Linked DNA regions of Homo sapiens: region 2 is linked to region 1. The links come from fine-mapping of genetic effects on gene expression. Tissue or cell type: tibial artery. Region 1 holds a variant in brackets; the other region holds the start of a gene. All regions are shown on one strand. Distances are from middle to middle.

Region 1 (4,377 bases):
GTTCCTTCCTTACATTGGGATAAAATAACTCCAATATGAAGAGAGCCTCAAGAGTTTCTCAACCTCTCCCCACCTCAGCACCTGTCCCAGCTCTGCCTGACCCACCGAGTGACCTGGGAGGTCGCTCCCCTGGCCTCAGTTTCCCTATCCGATTTAGGGAATATAGATGTTAGGATCACTGACTTCAATGAACTCGGTGAAATGTGCTTTACGGTGGGAATTGGCGGTCTCTAAGATACCCATATTCTCAGAGTGTCTTCCTTCTGGCCCTTGGCACCTACCCCTCCCTGGATCCCCAAGTGAGGGAGGGCAGGTGGATGTGTGGTCCCATAGAACTGGCCCCTAGGAGGTGGGTCTCTGGAGGACCCAGGTTCCCTCCTCTTCTGCTCACCTTGCCTCCACTTGTCCCCTTGGTGCCCCACCCCCTCCCATGCTGGGCCTGGGTGCACCGACTTACAGATGTGAGAGTGAGGGAGATGCAGAGAGGTACAGAGACCTGCCTGAGCCCTAAGGGTGTACCCAACCCTCCAAAGGCAACTGGGGGCTGGATGGGGCAGGTTTCCGGGATTGGAGCTCCTGAGAGCAGGTAGACCCAGCTCCCTTCCCCCTCCTCTGCTCTGCCCACAGATGGGGAGAGGAGACGCTGCCAGATGGAAGGACGCTCAAATACTGGGTGAGGCCGCTGACCCTTTCCCCGCCCCCTCTTCCCCTCGCCCCACTCCCATTCCCCTTCTCACCACCCCTCCTTATTCCCAGACTGCGGCCAACTCCTGGGGCCCAGCCTGGGGCGAGAGGGGCCACTTCCGCATCGTGCGCGGCGTCAATGAGTGCGACATCGAGAGCTTCGTGCTGGGCGTCTGGGGCCGCGTGGGCATGGAGGACATGGGTCATCACTGAGGCTGCGGGCACCACGCGGGGTCCGGCCTGGGATCCAGGCTAAGGGCCGGCGGAAGAGGCCCCAATGGGGCGGTGACCCCAGCCTCGCCCGACAGAGCCCGGGGCGCAGGCGGGCGCCAGGGCGCTAATCCCGGCGCGGGTTCCGCTGACGCAGCGCCCCGCCTGGGAGCCGCGGGCAGGCGAGACTGGCGGAGCCCCCAGACCTCCCAGTGGGGACGGGGCAGGGCCTGGCCTGGGAAGAGCACAGCTGCAGATCCCAGGCCTCTGGCGCCCCCACTCAAGACTACCAAAGCCAGGACACCTCAAGTCTCCAGCCCCACTACCCCACCCCACTCCTGTATTCTTTTTTTTTTTTTTTTAGACAGGGTCTTGCTCCGTTGCCCAGGTTGGAGTGCAGTGGCCCATCAGGGCTCACTGTAACCTCCGACTCCTGGGTTCAAGTGACCCTCCCACCTCAGCCTCTCAAGTAGCTGGGACTACAGGTGCACCACCACACCTGGCTAATTTTTGTATTTTTTGTAAAGAGGGGGGTCTCACTGTGTTGCCCAGGCTGGTCTCGAACTCCTGGGCTCAAGCGGTCCACCTGCCTCCGCCTCCCAAAGTGCTGGGATTGCAGGCATGAGCCACTGCACCCAGCCCTGTATTCTTATTCTTCAGATATTTATTTTTCTTTTCACTGTTTTAAAATAAAACCAAAGTATTGATAACTACAGTGTCTTGGAACCTCTGGGAGTGGAAAGCCAAGCCAAAGTTGGGCTGGCAGTGGTTAGACAGCAGAAAGGACTGCCTGAGGTGTTGCTGGTTGGCAGGGGTGGGGGGACTGGAAATCCTAACTTCCATTCAGCCCTAATTGTCAATGCCCTGGGCACTGACCCACTTGGGGGAGGGGCATGGATGGCATGGCCTTTGGCCCTAGAGAGAAACCTGAACCGTGGGAACCACCTTTCAGACGCTGAGTCAGCTGCCGCCTGAAGGGGGAGCCCTGCACTCCTATCAGCTGAACCGGTGCCAGTGCCCAGCAGGCAAGGGGGGCACAGCCCTCAGAAGCTGGAGCCTCTGTCTCTGTAGATCAGTCTCTCCAAGCCATCCAGGCAAGGGGGGCCTCTCCTCGGCCTGCTCTTGGGCCAAGCTGAGCCTGCTTCCCACCCCACCTCCTCAGATTCCCAGTGCCAGCACAATAAGCCAGGCCTCAGCCTGGCTCCAAGGCCATCAGAACCCACCCGCCCAACCTCGTCACCAGCTCCTTGCTGCCTCTCAAATGCCCGGTACACATGCAGACTGCCAGACATTCGCTCACGCTGCTCTCCGGGCCAGATGCCCTTCCATGCCACCCACCCCTTGTCCCGCTCCAAGGTTCCTTCTTCCAGACAGTGCCTGTGAAGGTCACTGAAGTGCCAGAGGCTGTGCAAGGAGCCCAGGCCACCCCATCCCCATCCGGCGTGGGTTAGACCCTCCCTCAAATCATCTGCACTCTGCCCTTCACCCAATATTTCAGGTATCTGGGATCTATTGAACTTCCGCATTATGCTGGAAGTTCCTAGAGGGCAGGGATGGTCTGTTTCATTAGTGGGTCCTGGTACCCACACCGAAACCCTGGTATAGGGTGGCCCTCCAATGTATGGAATGACTGAGTGGATATGGCCCATTCTTTCACCTCCAG[GC/G]CCCTCCCAAGCCTCCACTGCGTCCCCCCGGGCACAGACGCCAGGCTGGTGCTCCTTCCTTTCTGGGAGCCCAAGGGCCTGTGCCTGGGAGGGGGATCCCCGAGCGCAAGGAATCCTCCCCGCCGCCACCTCCAGCCAGTGGGGAGGCAGGGGCACCCTCAGTCGCCGAGGGACTGCGGCAGGGAGGTCCCCGGGGGCCCCTGGCAGCCCCTCAGGATCGCCGCGTCCCCCGGGCCTCACGGGCATCACCTGAAAGGAATGCGGGCGCCGGATAAGTGGCCGCCTTTGTCTCGCTTCCTGTTTGCCAGGACGTCCAGAGCCCGGCTCCAGCGGCCCGCCCGCCGGTCCCCAGGGAGCCAAGGCCGGCGGGGAGCCCCGAAGGGGCGGCGGCCCCTTCGCACCCGCTCAGTGGCCCCGGGACCCGCCCCGCCGGTAAAACCCGGTTCGGAGGCAGCTCGGTGGCCCCGCGAGGCTGGAATTTTCTACGGGTACCTTCCAAGGAAGCTCTGGGGGGCGGGGACGGTCGGGCGCGGCCCGCCGGGTCTCAAGGCTGAGGCTAAGGCTCCGGCTCCAGCTCCGCCCGCCCTGGCGCTGCGGACCCGTGTTGATGCCAGAAAGGGGTCCAGATCCAGACCCCAAGAGAGGGTTCTTGGATCTCGTGCAAGAAAAAATTAGAGGTGAATCTCTGCAGTAAAGTGAAAGCAAGTTTATTAGGAAAGTAAAGGCATAAAAGAATGGCCACTCCGGCAGGGCGCGGTGGTTCACGCCCGTAATCCAAGCACTTTGGGAGGCCAAGGCGGGCGGTTCCCGCGGTCAGGAGGGGCCAGGCTGACCCCCCAGTGTCAGAGACCTCTGAACCACAGCAACTCCATCTTGAATAGGGGCCGGGTAAAATAAGACTGAGATCTACTGGGCCGCATTCTCAGACAGCTAGCCATTCTAAGTCACAGGGTGAGATAGGAGGTCGGCAAAAGATACAAGTCATAAAGATCTTGCTGATAAAACAGGATGTGGAAAGAAGCCGGCCAACAGGCGCGGTGGCTCACGCCTGTAATCCCAGCACTTTGGGAGGCTGAGGTGGGCAGATCACGAGGTCAGGAGATCCAGACCAGCCTAACCAATGTGGTGAAACCCCGTCTCTACTGAAAATATAAAAATTAGCCGGGCGTGGTGGTGTGGGCCTGTAATCCCAGCTACTCAGGAGGCTGAGGCAGGAGAATCGCTTGAACCCGGGAGGCGGAGGTTGCAGTGAGCTGAGATGGTGCCACTGCACTTGAGCCTGGGCAACATAGCGAGACTCCATCTCAAAAAAAAAAAAAAAAAGAAGAAGAAAAGAATGGCTACTCCGTAGAGCAGCCCCAAGGGCAGCTGGTGTCCCATATTTATGGTTCTTTCTTGATTATCTGCTAAACAAGGGGTGGATTACTCATGCCTCCCCTTTTAGGGTCACTTACTGACATTGCCATGACATTTGTAAACTGTCATGGCACTGGTGGGAGTGCAGCAGTGAGGACGACCAGAGGTCACTCTCGTGCCATCTTGGTTTTGGTGGGTTTTGGCCGGGTTCTTTTTTTTTTCTTTTTTGAGATGGAGTCTTGCTATATTGCCCAGGCTGGAGTGCAGTGGTGCGATCTCAGCTCACTGCAAGCTCTGCCTCCCGGGTTCATGCCATTCTCCTGCCTCAGCCTCCCGAGTATCTGGGACTACAGGCGCCCGCCACCATGCCCGCCACCACACCAGGCTAATTTTTTTTTATTTTTAGTAGAGATGGGGTTTCACTGTGTTAGCCAGGATAGTCTCAATCTCCTGACCTCGTGAT
Region 2 (4,377 bases), 29 kb after region 1:
GATTCAGGACCAGAGGGGCTGCGAGGCCTAGTGCCTCCAGGCCAGCGCCCTGGCTCCTGCTGCTGGCTTGAAAATCCCTGGCCAGCGTCTGATAGGGGAGACAGGGAGATCTGTTGCTTGTGATGGCAGGAATCTCTTAGGATATCCCTTGACCTGGGGAGCAGCCATCTTTGGGGCACCAACGGATAAAGGGTGGGGGAAGGTTGGCAATTGAGATCCCTCTTAAGTGGAGATGGGACTGACTCTGTGACATTGTATACTGGGGGGAATTCTCAGCCATGATTTCCTCCCTACACAGACATGCACCACCCTGTATCATGACATGGGGGAGCCTGGCGAGCCCCTTGCCCACTCCAACCCATGGTATCTGGGAGGCCCTGTAATATGGAGATCTGCACTCTGGGCTAGGTTCTAAGCCTGGGCTGTGCTGGGCTTGGCCAGTGCCTACCGCCCACACAGACAAACATGGATCTGTACCTTCCACACTGCGGGCTGAACCTTGTTTGCCGCAACTGTTATTGGAGTGTCCCCACACGATCTGCCTCCCATCCCCCTACATGCTGCAGCCCCCTCTGCAGCCCCTACATAGCAAACAATCACAGCTCCAGGTAGGGGGGAGAATGTGGGGGGATAAGATGAGTCATTGCCGTGGGAACAGATGTACCAAGTTCCACATATGCACACTCACAGAACCTTACACACAAAGGCATGGCCACACTCACATTCCCACACTCACAGGGAAACACGCTGGGAGGCCAGTGCTAGTCAAAGCCACAGTTGAACATTCAGATCCACACTGAGAAACAGTCATCTCCTCACACATACACATTCCCCATAGACACAAACGCCAAAACACAGGGACAGATCAAGACCCAGACAGACACATCCCACCCAGAGTGACCTCCAGTCATCAACCCAGAGCCCACCCCCTGCTCATATGCACAGTCAGACTCAAACACACTGGATTCCCTAGACACACACCACAGCCCTTACTTGAATTCAAGACTCAAACACAAACACACACTCATGCACACATATGCAGACATGCACACACCCACACATTCACACATGCACACACGCACACACACACACACACACACAGCAGCCCCTCTTCTGAGTCCCTTCACTCATTCTCCTACCTCGGCCAGCACCTAGGGAAGACAAGACATCACACACCATGCAGATGCCATACCTGCCCAAGGACAAAGTTCTGCCTTGGGTTTAGCTTCAGTCCATCCTCCTGTTCTGCAGAGGTTAAGGTCACTGGCCCCCTCCCTTATGCTGCTCCAGTTCCTCTCCCACACCTCCTATGCCTAACGGCGCATCTTCAGAGCCTTTGAAAAGGGCTTTGGCTGCAATGGGAAAGATGGTGGTTGCATCCCAGGAGTCACCTCCCAGGAGGGAAACAGTGTGAGTTTCAGAGGGTGACATGTTAGGAATGTCCTATGCTGAGCTAGGGGATGGCCAAGGTGACTGCATGATGCTCAGGCAGTCACCCTTCACCTACCTGTGATTTCCAGAATCCCCAACCTTCAAACCTTTGCACCTGCTGTTTCCTGACCTTGAATGCCTCTCCTCGAATACCACAATCCCCCTTGCAGGCTACCTTCTTATTCTTCAGGTCTCCATGGAGATGTCCCTGCTCCAGGAAGCCTGTTCTCATGCCCTGGCTGAGTCGGTCTGTCCTCCTGTGCCCCACAGCCCCCAGGGCCCTCACACCCTCCTCACACCACAGGTTAATTGCCTGGGTGTGCACCTGCCTCCCCCACCAGCCAGAGAGATTTTGCAGGGGAGGGAGACTGTGTCTGGTGAGAGAGGCTAGAGGCCTGAGAGGGGCAGAGGCTCAAAGCCCAGCTCTGCCTCTGCTGTGCGACCTTGGGCAAGTCATTGCGCCATGTGGATCCAGTGTCCTTATCTGTAAAATGGGGACAATAACGACCACCTCACCAGGTTGATATGAAGATTAAATGAGAGCAGGCATCATATGCATTATCCAAACGGTAGCTGTATTATTAGAACTCACTGCCTAGCACACAGCTTAATAAATCGTTATTTGTGGAATTAACGAACCCCCACTTCTGTCCCCACCGGCGTCCTTGATTTTTGGGGGGAACAGTAGGTATAACAAAAAGAGAAACTGGGGGCAGATAGGATGGGGGGCTGGGAGATGGGAGAACAGGCTTCTCTGGCATCGTTGGGAGCTAGCTGTTACAGCAGCATCCGGAGCTAGGCTGGAGGCGGTGCAGGCATCCTCTCTGTCTCACCCCTGTGACCCACCTGTGCCATCCTCCTCCTCAGTTAGGTGAGGCAGCAAGGAGAGGCGGGGCTGGGCTCCACCTCTGCACTGTGGCCCTCTGAAGCTGCCAGGCCCGCCGGCACACACTAAGTGCGCCCAGAATGCGGGGTGGCCAGGGGCATAAATGTTGAATGAATGAGGATGGAATGAATGAACGGATGGACGCATGAATGGAGGTGGGATGGAAGCTTGAAGTGGGAGGCTAGAAGGAACGAGCGTCTCCCTCCGCCCTGCGGGTCTCGGGGCTGGAAGACAGGGAGCCAAGACCGTCTGGGGGCTCCCACCCCGCCCTGCCCCTCCCGCCGGCCCTCCCTCCCCGCAGCGCGCAGCCCGGCGGAGCCCGCGCCGAGCCACAGCCCGCGCAGTTGCCGCGGATCGTGCTGAGCCCCGCGAGCCGAGGCAGCGCAGCCTAGGGAGGGGGCTGCCCCGGCCCCCTCCTGCAGTCCCGGCCCCTAGAGGCTCGGCCTTCCTCGCAGGAAGGCGAAGTCCCCGGTGCCAGGTCCGGGGACCAGCAGCCGAGAACGCCCGGGTCCCGGAGCCAACAGGTGCGGGGTGTGGGGGACCCCCAGGCCTGGGATGGGGGTTCCAAAGGACCCGCGGCGAGGGATGGGAGGAGCCAAGAGTCTCGGGGGGTAACCTGGGTGCTGGGAGACTGGCTCCTCGGCCAGCGCTGCTCTCCTCTAGGCAGGCTCCGAGTGCCCTCGCTCCCCCGCGCCTTCCCGGAGCCCCGCCAGCCCCCGAGGTGCAGGAAGGTCCCGCGGACGGAGCGGGCCTGCCGGCGTTCAGTGGGGTATGAAGGCGTCCCCTCCCCTTCCCCAGGGGTCTCCAGGGATCCGCAACCCTCCGGCACCTGGCCGGGGTCGTCCTAGCCCAGCCGGGGGAAGGAGGGGCTGAGTGCGGGAGGAGGGGAGGGGCGGGGAGCTGGGCTGGCTGGATTTATGAATGGAGAGCGACCCGCGCGCCGGAACAGCGGCTCCTGGCGGCCGTCGGGGAGCGTCGCGGCCCTGGGGACCCAAAGGGGCCTCTTAGGGGGCCTGGATGCTCCCCTTGCTCGCAAGGGGTCGTCAGTCCCTCCGCGCACCACCCCCACTGTGTGTGTGTTGTATGTGTGCGTGTCCGCGAGTGCCCACCGGAGGGTCTGGCAGGTATGGCGGGTGGGGCTTGGGTCTCTAACACCTCCCTTGGCCCGTTTTCCCAACCCAAAGTTAAAGCCTCTGAACTGGCTCAAGAAATATTTGCAATCGGGATGGCTTCTCCTCCCAAATCTACGGTGTTTGGTGGGTTCGAACAGACCTGGCTTAAGAGCTTTGTGACCTTGAGCAAGAGACTCAATCTCTCTGAGCTTCGGTCTCATCTGCAAAGCAGGGTACCCTAATAATGGTAACCGGAAACGTCCCCGAAACTACCTTCTCGTACCAGGTTCTTGGTGAAGCACTTGGCACGCATCGGAGCTCATTACTCCTCATCGTGGTCCTGTAAGGTATGTAGGGCTGTCACCCCATTAGACAGATGGGGAAACCAAGGCTGAAAGAGGCCAGGTAAGCTACCCAAGGCAACTGGTGTGGAATTGGGATGCAACCCAGGTCTGTCTTCCTCCACCAATTTCATGACTGTGAGAATTAAGAGGGAACTTATACGCAAAGCGCCTGGCACAATCCCTAATGTTTCCTTCCTTCTCTCTTTTCCCACTCCCTCCTTTCCTTCCTCCCTTCAGGAAGTTTGAGGCTGAGACCCGAAAAGACCTGGGTGCAAGCCTCCAGGCACCCTGAAGGGAGTGGGCTGAGGGCTGGCCCAAGCTCCCTCCTCTCCCTCTGTAGAGCCTAGGATGCCCCTCTGCTGCAGCGGCTCCTGAGCTCATGGAGCCCTCAGCCACCCCAGGGGCCCAGATGGGGGTCCCCCCTGGCAGCAGAGAGCCGTCCCCTGTGCCTCCAGACTATGAAGATGAGTTTCTCCGCTATCTGTGGCGCGATTATCTGTACCCAAAACAGTATGAGTGGGTCCTCATCGCAGCCTATGTGGCTGTGTTCGTCGTGGCCCTGGTGGGCAACACGCTGGGTAGGTCCAGGGCTTGCCCGGCAGTG

Direction of the effects. Positions count from the first base shown, and alleles are read on the strand shown. Sizes are in standard deviations (SD) of each study's normalised expression.
In carriers of allele GC in region 1, the expression in tibial artery of the gene that starts at base 2,649 in region 2 tends to be higher than with G alone (small effect, 0.28 SD a copy in GTEx).

Evidence for each region. PIP is the estimated chance that this variant, and not a neighbour inherited with it, causes the effect.
Region 2: HCRTR1 starts here. The variant in region 1 is the best candidate, but not a certain one, in a credible set for the expression of HCRTR1 in tibial artery (GTEx, PIP 0.88).

Annotation. Positions count from the first base shown.
Region 1 is chr1:31,586,083-31,590,459 of GRCh38, forward strand. It overlaps TINAGL1 (tubulointerstitial nephritis antigen like 1), which reads left to right. Exons shown (of 12, transcript NM_022164.3): 11 at 628-673; 12 at 757-1,604. The coding sequence ends at 897. Among named protein-coding and RNA genes, the nearest start is that of TINAGL1, 12 kb to the left of the region's middle. The variant GC/G (reference allele first, on the strand shown) is at 2,558.
Region 2 is chr1:31,615,041-31,619,417 of GRCh38, forward strand. HCRTR1 (hypocretin receptor 1) reads left to right here and starts at 2,649. Exons shown (of 9, transcript NM_001525.3): 1 at 2,649-2,841; 2 at 3,716-3,776; 3 at 4,011-4,351. The coding sequence starts at 4,153. RefSeq lists enhancers at 1-339, 2,565-3,254.